Linked DNA regions of Homo sapiens. The protein of the gene in region 1 purifies or fractionates together with the protein of each later gene. This does not show direct contact. Each region holds a gene or a part of one and is shown in the gene's direction. Other genes may lie near its edges.

Region 1 (7,551 bases):
TGCATTTTTTTCTTTTTTCTTTTTTTTGTTTTTTTGTTTTTGTTTTGTTTTGTTTTGTTTTTTATTGATCATTCTTGGGTGTTTCTCACAGAGGGGGATTTGGCAGGGTCATAGGACAATAGTGGAGGGAAGGTCAGCAGATAAACAAGTGAACAAAGGTCTTTGGTTTTCCTAGGCAGAGGACCCTGCGGCCTTCCGCAGCGTTTGTGTCCCTGGGTACTTGAGATTAGGGAGTGGTGATGACTCTTAATGAGCATGCTGCCTTCAAGCATCTGTTTAACAAAGCACATCTTGCACCGCCCTTCATCCATTTAACTCTGAGTGGACACAGCACATGTTTCAGAGAGCACAGGGTTGGGGGTAAGGTCACAGATCAACAGGATCCCAAGGCAGAAGAATTTTTCTTAGTACAGAACAAAATGAAAAGTCTCCCATGTCTACTTCTACACAGACACGGCAACCATCCGACTTCTCAATCTTTTCCCCACCTTTCCCCCCTTTCTATTCCACAAAGCCGCCATTGTCATCCTGGCCGTTCTCAATGAGCTGCTGGGCACACCTCCCAGACGGGGTGGTGGCCGGGCAGAGGGGCTCCTCACTTCCCAGTAGGGGCGGCCGGGCAGAGGCGCCCCTCACCTCCCGGAAGGGACGGCTGGCCGGGCGGGGGGCCGACCCCCCCACCTCCCACCCGGACGGGGCGGCTGGCCAGGCAGAGGGGCTCCCCACCTCCCAGTAGGGGCGGCCGGGCAGAGGCGCCCCTCACCTCCCGGACGGGACGGCTGGCCGGGCGGGGGGCTGACCCCCCCACCTCCCTCCCGGACGGGGCGGCTGGCCGGGCAGGGGGCTGACCCCCCCACCTCCCTCCCGGACTGGGCGGCTGGCCGGGCGGGGGGCTGACCCCCCCCACCTCCCTCCCGGACTGGGCGGCTGGCCGGGCGGGGGGCTGACCCCCCCACCTCCCTCCCGGACGGGGCGGCTGGCCGGGCAGAGGGACTCCTCACTTCCCAGTAGGGGCGGCCGGGCAGAGGCGCCCCTCACCTCCTGGACGGGGCGGCTGGCGGGCGGGGGGCTGACCCCCCCACCTCCCTCCCGGACGGGGCGACTGGCCGGGCGGGTCTGACCCCCCCACCTCCCTCCGGACGGGGCGACTGGCCTGGCCGGCGGCTGACCCCCCCACCTCCCTCCCGGACGGGGCGGCTGGCCTGGCGGGGGGCTGACCCCCCCCACCTCCCTCCGGGACAGGGTGGCTGCCAGGCGGAGACGCTCCTCACTTCCCAGACGGGGTGGCTGCCGGGCGGAGGGTCTCCTCACTTCTCAGACGGGGCAGCCGGGCAGAGACGCTCCTCACCTCCCAGACGGGGTGGCAGCCGGGCAGGGGCGCTCCTCACATCCCAGACGGGGCGGCGGGGCAGAGGCGCTCCCCACATCCCAGACGATGGGCGGCCGGGCAGAGACGCTCCTCACTTCCTAGATGTGATGGCGGCCGGAAGAGGCGCTCCTCACTTCCCAGATGGGATGGCGGCCGGGCAGAGAGGCTCCTCACTTCCTAGATGTGATGGCGGCCAGGCAGAGACGCTCCTCACTTCCCAGACGGGGTGGCGGCCGGGCAGAGGCTGCAATCTCGGCACTTTGGGAGGCCAAGGCAGGCGGCTGGAAGGTGGAGGTTGTAGCGAGCCGAGATCACGCCACTGCACTCCAGCCTGGGCACCATTGAGCACTGAGTGAACCAGACTCCGTCTGCAATCCCGGCACCTCGGGAGGCCGAGGCTGGCGGATCACTCGCGGTTAGGAGCTGGAGACCAGCCCGGCCAACACAGCGAAACCCCGTTTCCACCAAAAAAATACGAAAACCAGTCAGGCGTGGCGGCGCGCGCCTGCAATTGCAGGCACTCCGCAGGCGGAGGCAGGAGAATCAGGCAGGGAGGCTCTTTTTTTTTTTTAGAGACAGAGTTTCGCTCTTGTTGCCCAGGCTGGAGTGCAATGGCGTGATCTCGCTCAATGCAACCTCCGCCTCCTGGGTTCAAGCAATTCTCCTGCCTCAGCCTCCTGACTAGCTGGGATTACAGGCATGCGTCACCACGCCCGGCTAATTTTTTGTATTTTTAGTAAAGACGGGGTTGGTTTCACCATATTGGCCAGGCTGGTCTTGAACTCCTGACCTCAGGTGATCCGCCCGCCTCGGCCTCCCAAAGGGTTGGGATTACAGGTGTGAACCATCGCGCCTGGCCTTTTTATTTTTATTTTTTGAGACAGACTCTCGCTCTTTCACCCAGGCTGGAGTGTGGTGGCACGACCTCGGCTCACTGCAATCTCCGCCTCTCAGGTTCAGGCGATTCTTCTGCCTCAGCCTCTGGAGTACCTGGGACTACAGGCGTGCACCACCACACCCGGCTTTGTATTTTTAGCAGAGACAGGGTTTCACCATATCGGCCAGGTTGGTCTCGAACTCCTGACCTCAAGTGATCCACCCAACTCGGCCTCCCGAAGTGCTAGGATTACAGGTGTGAGCCACTGCACCTGGTCTGAAGTGCATATTTCTGGAGTGGATGTATTAGTTGGATTATTTTAACAGAAATATTTTCCTTTTTTTGAAGAAGTAAATAAACTATATCCTGTTACACCTATTTTCTTTTCTTTTTTTTTTTTTTGAGACAGGGCCTCACTCCCGTCGCCCAGGTTGGGGTGCAATGGTGTGATCACAGCTCACTGCAACCTCCGCCTCCCGGGTTCAGGTGATCCTCCCATCTCGGCCTCCCAAAGTGCTGGGATTACAGGCGTGAGCCACCGCGCCCGGCCTACACCTATTTTCTTCAATGAGTTTTTCACTAAATTCCATAGTGCTCCTAACTTTCATCTGAGAAAGTATTCTACCACTGATATTTCCTATTATAACCAAATTCGCTGACCAATCTGCTCTGTAAAAAAAGGTTTGTGGGTATAAATGACGAAAGTCAGTTCATGGATCAAATCCTTCAGTTCTGTCACATTGTGAGAGGCCACTGTTGTGAAAGTAAAATAACTTCTAGTTACGGCTCTGCTAAGAATACGCTGGGGGATGTCAGGAAGTCGCTTTATTTGTAAAATGATGAGTTAGACCAGAATATATTCTCTGATAGAAGTTTACAAAGATGAATAAAGATTTATAGGCTAGGCGCGGTGGCTCACGCCTAAAATCCCAACACTTTCGGAAGCTGAGGATCCCTAGTGCACAGGAATTCGAGATCAGCCTGGGCAACCTGGTGAGACCCCCTTCTCTACCAAAAATAAATAAATAAATAAATAATAAATTTTTAAAATGTATTAGCTGGGCTTGGTGACGTAGTGAGGCAGGAGGATGCCTTGAGCCCAGGAGTTCAAGGCTGCAGCGAGCCGTGATCATAGCACTGCACTTTGGCATGGGAGATAGAGCAAGACCTTAGCTCTAAAAAAAAAAAAAAAAAAAAATTAATAGATTTATAAAGTCCATTCTATGGAGGAAAGTCTCTTATTCAGTTATGAACTGCTGCGAACCTAAAGGCAGGAAGGCAAATTCCCTTCAGTTCGGCAAACACGAAGACCCCACATTCGCGTCGTCTGTGAAGAAGGCACTCCGAACCTCAGGCGCTCACTCGCCAGGTTTAAGAGGATGAGCAAAGAATAAAAGTCCTCTCACCCAGGAAGCGTTTCGCTTCCCTTAGCTGGAGCCACGCTCCAAGGTGCCAAAGCCTAATTGCTGTCCACTCTCACCAATCCGTTAGCAAGATGAGCATCTACCTGCTGCGAACGTGGCGGTGACACTACTACAGCTCCCAGCCTGCCTCCCGCCCGCCCCCACTCCTGGACTCCACAGACCGTGACTTGTAGTCCCAGCCCACGGCTGGCGGCGGTGCGGGACTCCTGAAAACTGCTTTTCCTCCCTAGTAGGCGGTGAGACCGCAAATTCCATCAGAATCCTACTCTGACCCACTAGGGCTTGGCCCGCTCAGAGTCGCATTCCCTCCTCCAAATGAACCAACTCTCCTCCCAGCGATACTCCGACCTCTGAGCACCCCGGGCGGGGCCACGCCCCGGAAATGGAGTCAGGTCTCCAGGCCGCCCGCTGAAGTGCCTTCCAGCCACTCCAAGCGGGGCTGGGGCCGGCGGGGCGGGCTTGGGGGCGTGGCCGGGAGGCGGGCGGGGATGCATCTGCGGGCGCAGCGCTTGGGGCGGAGCCGCAGCGCGAGGCCGCGCATCTGGGTGGCGGCGGGGACGCGCCCGTGGGGAGAGGCGGCTGCGGCTGCGGCTGCGGCTGCTGGCGGGGGGTGGGGGGGAGGAGGAACCGGGAAGGGGGGGCAGGGCGAGCGGAGAGCTAGCTGTGTTCCTGAGGCGGCGGCGGCGGCGGCGGCGGCGGCGGCGTCTCCGACGGAGGAGGAGGGCGGGGAAGGAGGATGGAGCAAGCTGGGGGTTGGGGTTGGCGCTAGCGCAGCGGCTCGCCTGGTACTGTGGGAGAGCGGCGGCTGCTCCTGGAAGTTGTGGTGTCGGGAGCCCAGCCGGTGCCGCCGCAGCCGCCGCCTAGGGCGGTGGGGAGGAGGAGGGAGCCGCGGGGCTTGGCGGGGTCGGGAGGGAGGGACGTGCTGGGGGAACGAGCTGGGGAAGACGGAGCGGGCTCTGTGCCGGGCGGGCGGGCGGCGGGGGGGCCAGCGACCGCAGCCGGGGGGACGCGGGAGGATGGAGCAAGTGGAGATCCTGAGGAAATTCATCCAGAGGGTCCAGGCCATGAAGAGTCCTGACCACAATGGGGAGGACAACTTCGCCCGGGACTTCATGGTGAGTCTCTCCCCTCGCTGTCGCGTTTTCTTGCCGGCGCCGGAGCCCATCGCCGCCTCTCCCGGCCGGGCCGCCAGTGCTTTGTGTACCTCTGTGAGGAGAGGGGCGGAGGGGGCGCGCACCAGCCGGGTGAGCCGGGTGGTCTCGGAGGCCAGCGGGAGGCGAGAGCGCCTCCCCCCGTGGCCTCCTTTCTTCTCCCATGTTCGCGACCCCCGCGCGGGTTCCCGGGACGCGAAGGGAGCGGCCGCGCGGCCGAGCCCGCAGCCTGCACCGTGGCTCGCGACCACCTATTGTTTACCGGGCCGGGAGCCGTAGGCAAGTGAGGTGCAGGCCGGGGGGGGGGGCTCGCGTTTCCACACCTCCCCGCGCAGTTCGCTCCTCCCAGGAGGGTCGAGGCAAGGTATCTGGCTGTGACCGGGAGGAGTGCAGATCGTGGCTGACAGAGGAACGGGGGTATTGAGGTTGGCACTAACTCCTGGGATCCCTTTGCTCTAGCTGGTCTCAAAGCGGGCAGGGTAGGACTTAGGCCGTTTCTGGGGTCGCAGTCATGATCTCCAACGCTTGGGAAAGGATTGCCCATAAGGAATCTCATGGGTTTACCTAATTTCCATTTACCCGCGTCCCGCTTCTCCTCTCCTGAGGCCCAGGTTTGAGGTGGTCTTGGGGTCCGTGTGACTATAGGTTCAGGGGATAAGTGTGGGTGGGGGAATTATCCTGAAGGAAGCCAGCCGACTTCGGACTCCCCAGGGGATATTGCCGAAGGCGGAGGGGATGTGACTATCACTTCCTATCCGGGGTGGGGGTGGGGAACTTGGGAACAATAGTCCTGGTGGGGCGGAGGCGACGCTACGGGCCGAAGCCCTGAACTGGGAGATAACCTTCCCAGCGCCCCCCCGCCTCCGCCACCCCCTACTTTCCGCCCTCTGCTTGTGCAGGCAGTCTTGAGAGGAGGTGAAGGTTAAAAGTCTTGTTCATGAAATTGCTCTAGATACACTATTGCTTTAGCACACTGTGAGGGGGTCAGATCCGAAGGCGTGAGACCAGAAGTCGACTTCCTACGTTACCCACCCCCCCAACCCCCGCCCTTTTTATTTTTCTGCTGGACAATGTTCCCTCTAGGGTTGTTTCCCGGCTTAGGAGGCGGTGGTTGCGGCTGCTGCTCCTACGGATATTGCGCAAGACTGGGGCGTTGGAAACCCTGTAGGTCTGGGGAATGAAAAAGGAAGTGGGACTTTGGGAAGTGGTTGCTCCTTAGTCTTGGCGGGGGTTGGGAATGGGAAATAAGCTGGGGAAAATTTTTATCTTGGGTAAGGTACACCTCGAAGAATAATCACTTAATTCTGAAATCTGATTATGAGAAGGATACACAGTTAATGCCTGTAAAATGAATGGGCAGCAAACATTGGCTAGTTTTTATTTTTTGTTTAAAAAGTACAGTAGTTTTTATGGTGGAGGTGATATGACTTAGTAGTGAATACTTTTTCACGTTTTAAAGAGACTGGTCTAGTAAAGCTTTAGCGTTAAATTTTTAACAGCTTATAAAATAGGCCCTTGACCATACACAGTATTATACTAGCATCGTTGAGCTTTGTGATTCCCGCCTCCCCAGACCAATAATAGAGGACGGAAGTAAAGTTTTCTCAGTATCTTTTGAAGATTGAAAATATAAGTTAAATAATCTAACTTATTCCTTATTAAAAATAAAAATATTGCTTATATTTAAACATTTGCTCTTGATATTTAGCCTATGTATTTTTGAAAAATTACTTTTTGATCTGAAAGGGTTAAGGAAAACGGCATTTTCCCTTTTTACTATTGAGAGTTTTTATTGTCTTGGTATCTTTTGAATGGTGTCATTTACAGCAATTGGATGGAGTCCCTTTTTTACTACTTTCTAGCAAAAGTAGAAGAAAATACTTTGAATATTTAAGATGTTTAAAACTAGTTTTTTTGGGTTTTGTTGTTTGGTTGGTTGGTTGGTTGGTTTTTTTTTTGAGACGGAGTCTCGCTCTACGCTCTGTCGCCCCGGCTGGAGTGCAGCGGCGCAATCTCAGCTCACTGCAACCTCTGCCTCCCAGATTCAAGCGATGCTCCTGCCTCAGCCTCCTGAGTAGCTGAGATTATAGGCACGTGCCACCACGCCCGGCTAATTTTTGTCCGAAGTAGCCGGGACTACAGGCGCAAGCTACCACGCCCTGCTAATTTTGTATTTTTAGTAGAGATGGGGTTTCGCCATATTTGCAGGCTGCTCTCGAACTCCTCATCTCAAGTGATCCATCTGCTTTGGCCTCCCAAAGTGCTGGGATTACAGGCGTGAGCCACCATGCCCGGCCTAAAACTAGTTTTTTACCGTCTTACTTTGGTTATGGAAGAAGAGATGGTGTGGTCCCTGGTCATTTCTTGTTTGCATGCTAGTCACCTTGTTATCCCTAGGCATATACCGTCAGGAAGGAGCATTGTTTGGTGATGCGGGCCATCAGGACAGGTTGCCCAGCCTCTGAACTCCTGTACTGGAGAAGTGGCCTTAGGGTTCATGCTTTGGGGATGAGTCAGGGATTCCTATTGGAGAGTTCATTTCTTTCTTTCTTTCTTTCTTTCTTTTTTTTTTGAGATGTAACACCTCGCTGTGTCGCCCAGGTTGGAGTGCAGTGGCTCAATCTCGGCTCACTGCATCCTCCACCTCCCAGGTTCAAGCGATTCTCCTGCCTCAGCCTCCTGAGTAGCTGAGATTACAGGCGCATGCCACCACGCCTGGCTAATTTTTGT
Region 2 (7,268 bases), on another chromosome or scaffold:
TTTAAAATAAATGAATAAAACTGGGATTGGCCCCCAATGAATTTGCCTGCTATTGGTACATACCTGTGTGTTGTTTCTCTCCCACCCTTCCCTGTTTATACCTTCTTTGTGGCACTTTGGTTAAGCAGTGCTGTATAATTTCTCTTGGTTAACTTTGATTGTATCTTGTCAGAATAAGACAGTGACCACAGTTTCCAAAGATCCAGGGAAACAGCCAGGCCACAATGAGAAAAAATTCCAGTTTTTGGGATGATCAGACACCAGTGTCCTTCAGATACGGGCATGCACGGGTGACAGTGGGACCCGTTTTGGAAGGGTAGATGAAAGCAGTGTTCTCTCACCCCTGGGGATTTCCAGGCTTCTCACTTGGGTGTGAGGTCCAAATCGTCCCTGAACCTCCTGTAGATACTTATTTTTCCTGGGCCTTCCTGATTCCCAAGGTTCTTGGTGTAGACCAGCTTCCTAGTTGCTGTTTCAGCAACCCTGTTCCTGTAGTGGGCAGGGCTTCTCTCTGCCTGGGATTGACTAGGGAAAGTCTTGGGGCTGTCTGAACTGGCTCATTGCCCTGCTGTCAACACAAGGCTGTCACTCTCATCCAAACCTTTTACCAGATTGGAATCTTGTCATTCTGGAGCCTTAGCAGAGTTTGAACTGATGTTGCCTCTGGCTTTGCTCAATGGTTTTTCTCTATACAGTCATCTCTTGGTATCTGTAGGGGATTGGTTCTAGGACTCCCATGCAGGTACCAAAATTCATGGACATTCAAGTCCTTTCTTTTCTTTTTTCTTTTTCAATACAGAGATTGGGTCTTGCTATGTTGGCCAGGCTGGTTTCAAACTCCTTGCCTCAAGCTATCCTCTTGCCTTGGCCTCCCAAAGTGCTGGGATAAGAGGTGTAAGCCGGCCGGGCATGGTGGCTCACACCTGTAATCCCAGCACTTTGGGAGGCTGAGACGGGTGGATCACGAGGTCAGGAGATCGAGACCATCTCGGCTAACACAGTGAAACCCCGTCTCTACTAAAAATACAAAAAAATTACCCGGGCATGGTGGTGGGCGCCTGTAGTCCCAGCTACTCAGGAGGCTGAGGCAGGAGAATGCTGTGAACTTGGGAGGTGGAGCTTGCAGTGAGCTGAGATCGTGCCATTGCACTCCAGCCTGGGCGACAGAGCGAGAATCTGTCTCAAAAAAAGAGGTGTAAGCCACTATGCCTGTCCTCAGATTCTTTCTATAAAATGGTGTAGTATTTACATATAACCTACACACATCTTCCTGTATACTTTAAGTATTCTCCAGATTGCTTATAATACCTAATATAATGTTAATGCTATGTAAATAGTTGTTTACACTGTATTTTTTATTTGTATTTTTTAATTGGTATATTTTTATTTTTTAATTTTTGGAATATTTTTCATCTGTGGTTGGTTGAATCCATGGATGCAGATATGGAGAACTGACTGTACAGTGCTCTAGATAAATATAGGAGGCTGCTTTAAAAAAAAAATACAGAAAGAATACAGGTTAACACCACAGAGTCTCCCTGCTGACCCCATAGTGTATTTTGTACAATGTTTAGATTGTTGCTGTAATTTTTAAATACTCTCTCGGATTTTATGAAAAGAAAAACTTCAGACTAGTTAAATTTAGCAGAGTTTATCTGAGCAAAGAAACTATTCATGAATCAGGCAGCACCCTGAACCAGTAAAGGTTCAGAGAGCTCCACAAGGCAAAAGTGGGCAGGCAATACTTACAGAAAAAAGAGGTGATACAGAAATAGCCTGATTGGTTACACCTGGGTGGTTGCCTTATTTGGACTTGACTGGGCAGTCTGCAGCCTGGGATTGGCTGAAAGCTCCCCTGTTATGATTGGCAGAGACCCAGCTACTTGTTACAAGAATATACTCTTAGTTAGGTTACGGTTTGTTTACACACTAAGTTAGGTTGTGGCTTGCTATTTATGGAGGCAGCTTTAGGCCAACATTTTTTTTTTTTTTTTTTGAGACAGAGTCTCGCCCTGTTGCCCAGGCTGGAGTCCAGTGGTGCGATCTCGGGTCACTGCAAGCTCTGCCTCCTGGGTTCACACCATTCTCCTGCCTCAGCCTCCTGAGTAGCTGGGACTACAGGGGCCCGCCACCACGCCCGGCTAATTTTTTTGTATTTTTAGTAGAGACGGGGTTTCACCGTGTTAGCCAGGATGGTCTCGATCTCCTGATCTCGTGATCCGCCCGCCTCGGCCTCCCAAAGTGCTGGGATTACAGGAGTGAGCCACTGCGCCCAGCCTAGGTCGAATTTAATTTGACAATCTGGTCCCCAGAAACACACCAGGAGGGCTGTTTCCTTTTGTCTTGCCTAGTGGCAAAAGGGAAGATAGAGTCATGAACAATTACCTGCTCTCCCATACATTCTTTGTAGAGCAGCCGGAGGGAGCTAGCTTTAAAATAATCGTCAAAAACCTCTTTTTTTTTTTTTTTTTGAGATGGAGTTTCACTTTTGTTGCCCAGGCTGGAGTGCAGTTGCGAGATCTCGGCTCACTGCAACCTCTGCCTCCCGGGTTCAAGCGATTCTTCTGCCTCAGCCTCCCGAGTAGCTGGGATTACAGGCATGCGCCACCACGCCCGGCTAATTTTTTGTATTTTTAGTAGAGACGGGGGTTTCACCAGGTTGGGCAGGCTGGTCTGGAACTCCTGACCTCAGGTGATTCGCCCGCCTGGGCAAAGTGCTGGGATTACAGGCGTGAGCCACCGCACCCGGCCTGTTCCACCCTTTTAAAGAAACTGTTCTGCTGTGACTGGCTGGTGGTCTTGCATGAGGAGAATATCATTAAGGACGGGCTCTGGCTTCTTTAGAAGCCCTATACTCAAGAAGGGGTGCAGCACAAAGCCCACACACGTGGGGCTCACCTTCTGGTGAGAGACCTTGTGACCAACGGAGAAAACACAGCAACTTGTTGAAGAGAGGAACTTCTTCTCCATTCCCCACGTAATCTCAGGCAGTTCAACTCAGCAAATGTCTATGTGAAGTCTGAGTGGCCAGCCTTGTGGTAGCTGCTGTGGGCTCACAGAGAGACAGACACACAACATCTCACCTCTAAGAGATTATTAGCTACTCAAGAAGATGAGTCTCAACATGAAATTTTAAAACAGTAGTTTTAATTTAATTAAATTATTTATTTTTGAGACAGGGTCTTGCTCTGTCACTCAGGCTAGAGTGCAGTGGTGCGATCACGGCTCACTGCAGCCTCAAACTCCTGGGCTCAAGCAATCCTCCCAAGTAGCTGGAACCGCAGGCACATGCCACCACGCCTGGTTAATTTTTGTATTTTTTGTAGAAACGCTGTTTCACCATATTGCCTAGGCTGGTCTCAAACTCCTGAGCTCAAGCAATCTGCCTGCCTTGGCCTCCCAAAATGCTGGGATTACAGGCATGAGCTACTGCACCTGGCCAATAGTTTTTAATATTAACATAAAATTAAGGTTATTAAAATATATATTATTAGTGATTTGGTACTTTCCCAACTTTTTTCCTCCATGCATAATTATAATCCTATAGTATCTGTACTATCTTGTATTCTACTGCTTTAATTAAAATATCGTAACTTTGGCTGGGCACAGTGGCTCATGCCTGTAATCCCAGCACTTTGGGAGGCCAAGGCGGGTGGATCACTTGAGATCAGGAGTTTGAGACCAGCCTGGCCAACATGGTGAAATCTCGTCTCTACTAAAGAAATACAAAAATTGGCCGGGCGCGGTGGCTTACGCCTGTAATCCCAGCACTTTCAGAGGCTGAGACAGGTGCATCACAAGGTCCGGAGTTCGAGACCAGCCTGGCCGATATGGTGAAACCCTGTCTCTACTAAAAATACAAAAATTAGCCGGGCGTGGTGGTGGGTGCCTGTAGTCCCAGCGACTCGGGAGGCTGAGGCAGGAGAATCACTTGAACCCGGGAGGCGGAGGTTGCAGTGAGCCAAGATCACACCACCATACTCCAGCCTGGGCAACAGAGTGAGACTCCGTCTCAAAACAAACAAACAACCGAAAACAAAAATTAGCCAGGCATGGTGGTGGGCACTTGTACTCAGCTACTTGGGAGGCTGAGACAGGAGAATCGTTTGAACCCAGGAGGCGGAGTTTGCAGTGAGCTGAGAGCATGCCACTGCACTCCAGCCTGGGCGACAGAGCCAGACTACATCTCAAAAAAAAAAAAAATTATAACTTATTTTATATATTGCTATCTACTTTCCCTAACAATTATTTAGAAAAGTTTTGTGAGTGATACAACTATTCTGTCACTGTTTGGCATTTATGTAATTTCTAGAGTTTTCTTTTCTTTTCTTTTCTTTTTTTTTTTTTTTTTTTTGAGACAGAGTTTCGTTCTTGTTGCCCATGCTGAAGTGCAATGGCACGACCTCGGCTCACTGTAACCTCCGCCTCCTGGGTTCAAGCAATTCTCCTGCCTCAGCCTCCCAAGTAGCTGGAATTACAGGCATGCACCACCATGCCTGGCTAATTTTGTATTTTTAGTAGAGATGAGGTTTTTCCATGTTGGTCAGGCTGGTCTTGAACCCCTGACCTCAGGTGATCTGCCTGTCTCAGCCTCCCAAAGTGCTGGGATTACAGGCATAAGCCACCGCACCCGGCCCAGTGTTTTCTATAATAAAGAATGTGGTGCATGTCATTCGTGTAAGGTATTTAAAATTGGGATTCTTTAAGTATCTATTTCTGGAAACTCAAGACAGAACTCATCATTGCCCAGCCATTTTACTATGTTTCTCTAATAAGTCACTCTTGCCCTTTCTGCAGTGATAATTTCATGCCTTTTCCACTCAAACCTACACATCCCTCCCACATTCTCACTGTGTTTTGGTGATCTTGCCTCTACTCCATTAAGAAACCAGACAGCAGGGCTGGGCGTGGTGGCTCATGCCTGTAATCCCAGCACTTTGGGAGGCCCAGGCGGGTGAATCACCTGAGGTCAGGAGTTGGAGACCAGGCTGGTCAACATGGTGAAACCCCGTCTTTACTTAAAAAAAAAAAAAAAAAAAAATTAGCCAGGTGTTGTGGTGGGTGCCTGTAGTCCCAGCTACTCGGGAGGCTGTGGCAGGAGAATCGCCTGGACTTGGGAGGGGGCGGTTGCAGTGAGCCAAGGTCACTCCGCTGCACTCCAGCCTGGGCAACAGAATGAGACTCTGTCTCAAAAAAAAAAAAAAAAAAAAAAAAAAGAAAGAAAAAGAAAGAAGAAAAAAAGAAAAGAAAAAAGAAACCAGAGCAGCTGGTGAAAGCTCACTTACCTTCTGTATAAATAGGATTCAGTTTGGCTGCAAGTAATAGAAAACCCCAAAACAACAGTGGCCTAGACAAGGAAGAGGTTTATTTCTCTCTCATCTACAAGCCCCTGATTGGTCATTCCAGGGCTGGCATGGCTGCCCTTGGGGTGAGGACCCACACTCCTGTCTGCTTACTCCAGTGGTGCCTGGTTCAATGCCTGGCACATGACAGATTCTCAGTAATACCTACTGAATGACTGAAAAAACCATTAACTAACAGAAGGACATTGAAAAACTTTTGATATGTAGAACCAGGATGATTTCCTAAAGAGTGGGCCTATTCTCAGTGTTCCCAATAGTATGTGCGGATGCTAGTTTCACTCTGTCAGTCATAGCTATTGTCTTTTTTTCTGCTCATTCAATAAGCAAAACTTGGTGCCTTATTCAACTTTCATTTGCGTTTTTATCACCAGGGAGAGTGCACATTTGGTTATTTTCTTGTAATTCCTCTTTTACAAATGGTTTTGTTTTCTTCCTCATGCTTTGCTTGTAAATTTATATGCATATTTTAAAATATATATTTTTGTATATATACACGTGTGTGTGTGTGTGTGTGTGTGTGTAATTCACATGTTCTAACATCCAGTATAGGCATGACACAGTGAGAGGCAGTCCTCAGGCCCTCAAGCTTTTGCACTGGACATTCCCGGGTTTGATTCCCAGTTTGGCTCCTTTCAAGCCAAAGAATGTGTGTGCCCGTGTTCAAATTATTCAGCTTTCCTCAGCTTTGCCTCCTCATCTGTAAAATGATATATGTATATGGATTTTGAAAACACTTTATACAGTCAAGTTTATTGATCTAAAGTTTTGTGATTTCTTCTATTACACTTCGAGGTTTTCTGTGGTCCAAGTTTTACTCAATATGTGTCTTATGATTGGGCGCTGTGGCTCATGCCTATAATCCTAGTACTTTGGGAGGCCGAGGTGGGACAATTGCTTGAGTCCAGGGGTTCAAGACCAGCCTGGGCAACATATTGAGACCCTGTCTCTACAAAAAAAATTTTAAAATTAGCAAGGCATGGTGGCCAGTACCTGCAGTCCCAGATAATCAGGAGGCTGAGGCAGAAGGATCACTTGAGTCCATGCGGTTGAAGCTGCAGCGAGCCGTGATTACACCACTGCACTGCAACCTGGATGACAGAGCAAGACGCTGTCTCACTAAAAATACTGTCTTTTGAGTATGAGGGCTTAAGTGTTCTGACATTTGCAGAAGTCAGAGACCTGTGTGGACCTGCAAAATGAGGAGGAGGTGGATTCCTGCCCTCAGGGTCCTACATTCTTCTTAAGGAAGCAAACAAAGATGTAGGACACTAATGGGAAACAGACTGACCTACTCTCCTTCAGGCTAAAAAGAGTGGTTTACCTGCCGGGATGGTGGCTCCTGCCTGTAATCCCAGCACTTTGGGAGGCCAAGGCAGGTGGATCACGAGGTCAGGAGATTGAGACCTTCCTGGCTAACACGGTGAAACCCCGTCTCTACTAAAAGTAGAAAAAAATTAGCCAGGTGTGGTGGCATGTGCCTGTAGTCCCAGCTACTCAGGAGGAGAATTGCTTGAACCTGGGAGGCAGAGGTTGCAGTGAGCCGAGACTGCACCACTGCACTCCAGCCTGGGTGACAGAGCGAGACTCCGTCTCCAAAAAAAAAAAAGTGGTTTACTGGGGCAAGTTTCTTTTTCTTTTTCTTTTTCTTTTTCTTTTTAGTAGAGATGGGGTTTCACCATGTTGGCCAGGCTGGTCTTGAACTCCTGACCTCACATGATCCACCCACCTCGGCCTCCTAAAGTGCTGGGATTACAGGCATGAGCCACCATGCCTAGCATACCAGGGCAAGATTCTTGGACAAGTCTGGCTGGGTGAGTGCGATAGGGTACCACTCCTTGAAGAGTGCTAAAATGGCACCAGGCATGCAACAAGATGGGGAAATCTTTGTTTTCAGAATACCTCTCA

What was found.
Region 2: the proteins of PTPN12 (region 1) and PSTPIP2 purify together in Homo sapiens (affinity purification with mass spectrometry; 5 studies listed by BioGRID and IntAct, with this or other methods). This does not show direct contact.

Annotation. Positions count from the first base shown.
Region 1 is NC_000007.14:77,532,861-77,540,411, forward strand, and holds the start of PTPN12 (tyrosine-protein phosphatase non-receptor type 12), read left to right. Parts: upstream 1-4,434; 5' UTR 4,435-4,686; coding exon 4,687-4,785; intron 4,786-5,182; exon of another isoform or gene 5,183-5,246; intron 5,247-7,551. UniProt on the Homo sapiens protein: Dephosphorylates a range of proteins, and thereby regulates cellular signaling cascades. Dephosphorylates cellular tyrosine kinases, such as ERBB2 and PTK2B/PYK2, and thereby regulates signaling via ERBB2 and PTK2B/PYK2.
Region 2 is NC_000018.10:46,062,231-46,069,498, reverse strand, and holds part of PSTPIP2 (proline-serine-threonine phosphatase-interacting protein 2), read left to right. Parts: intron 1-7,268. UniProt on the Homo sapiens protein: Binds to F-actin. May be involved in regulation of the actin cytoskeleton.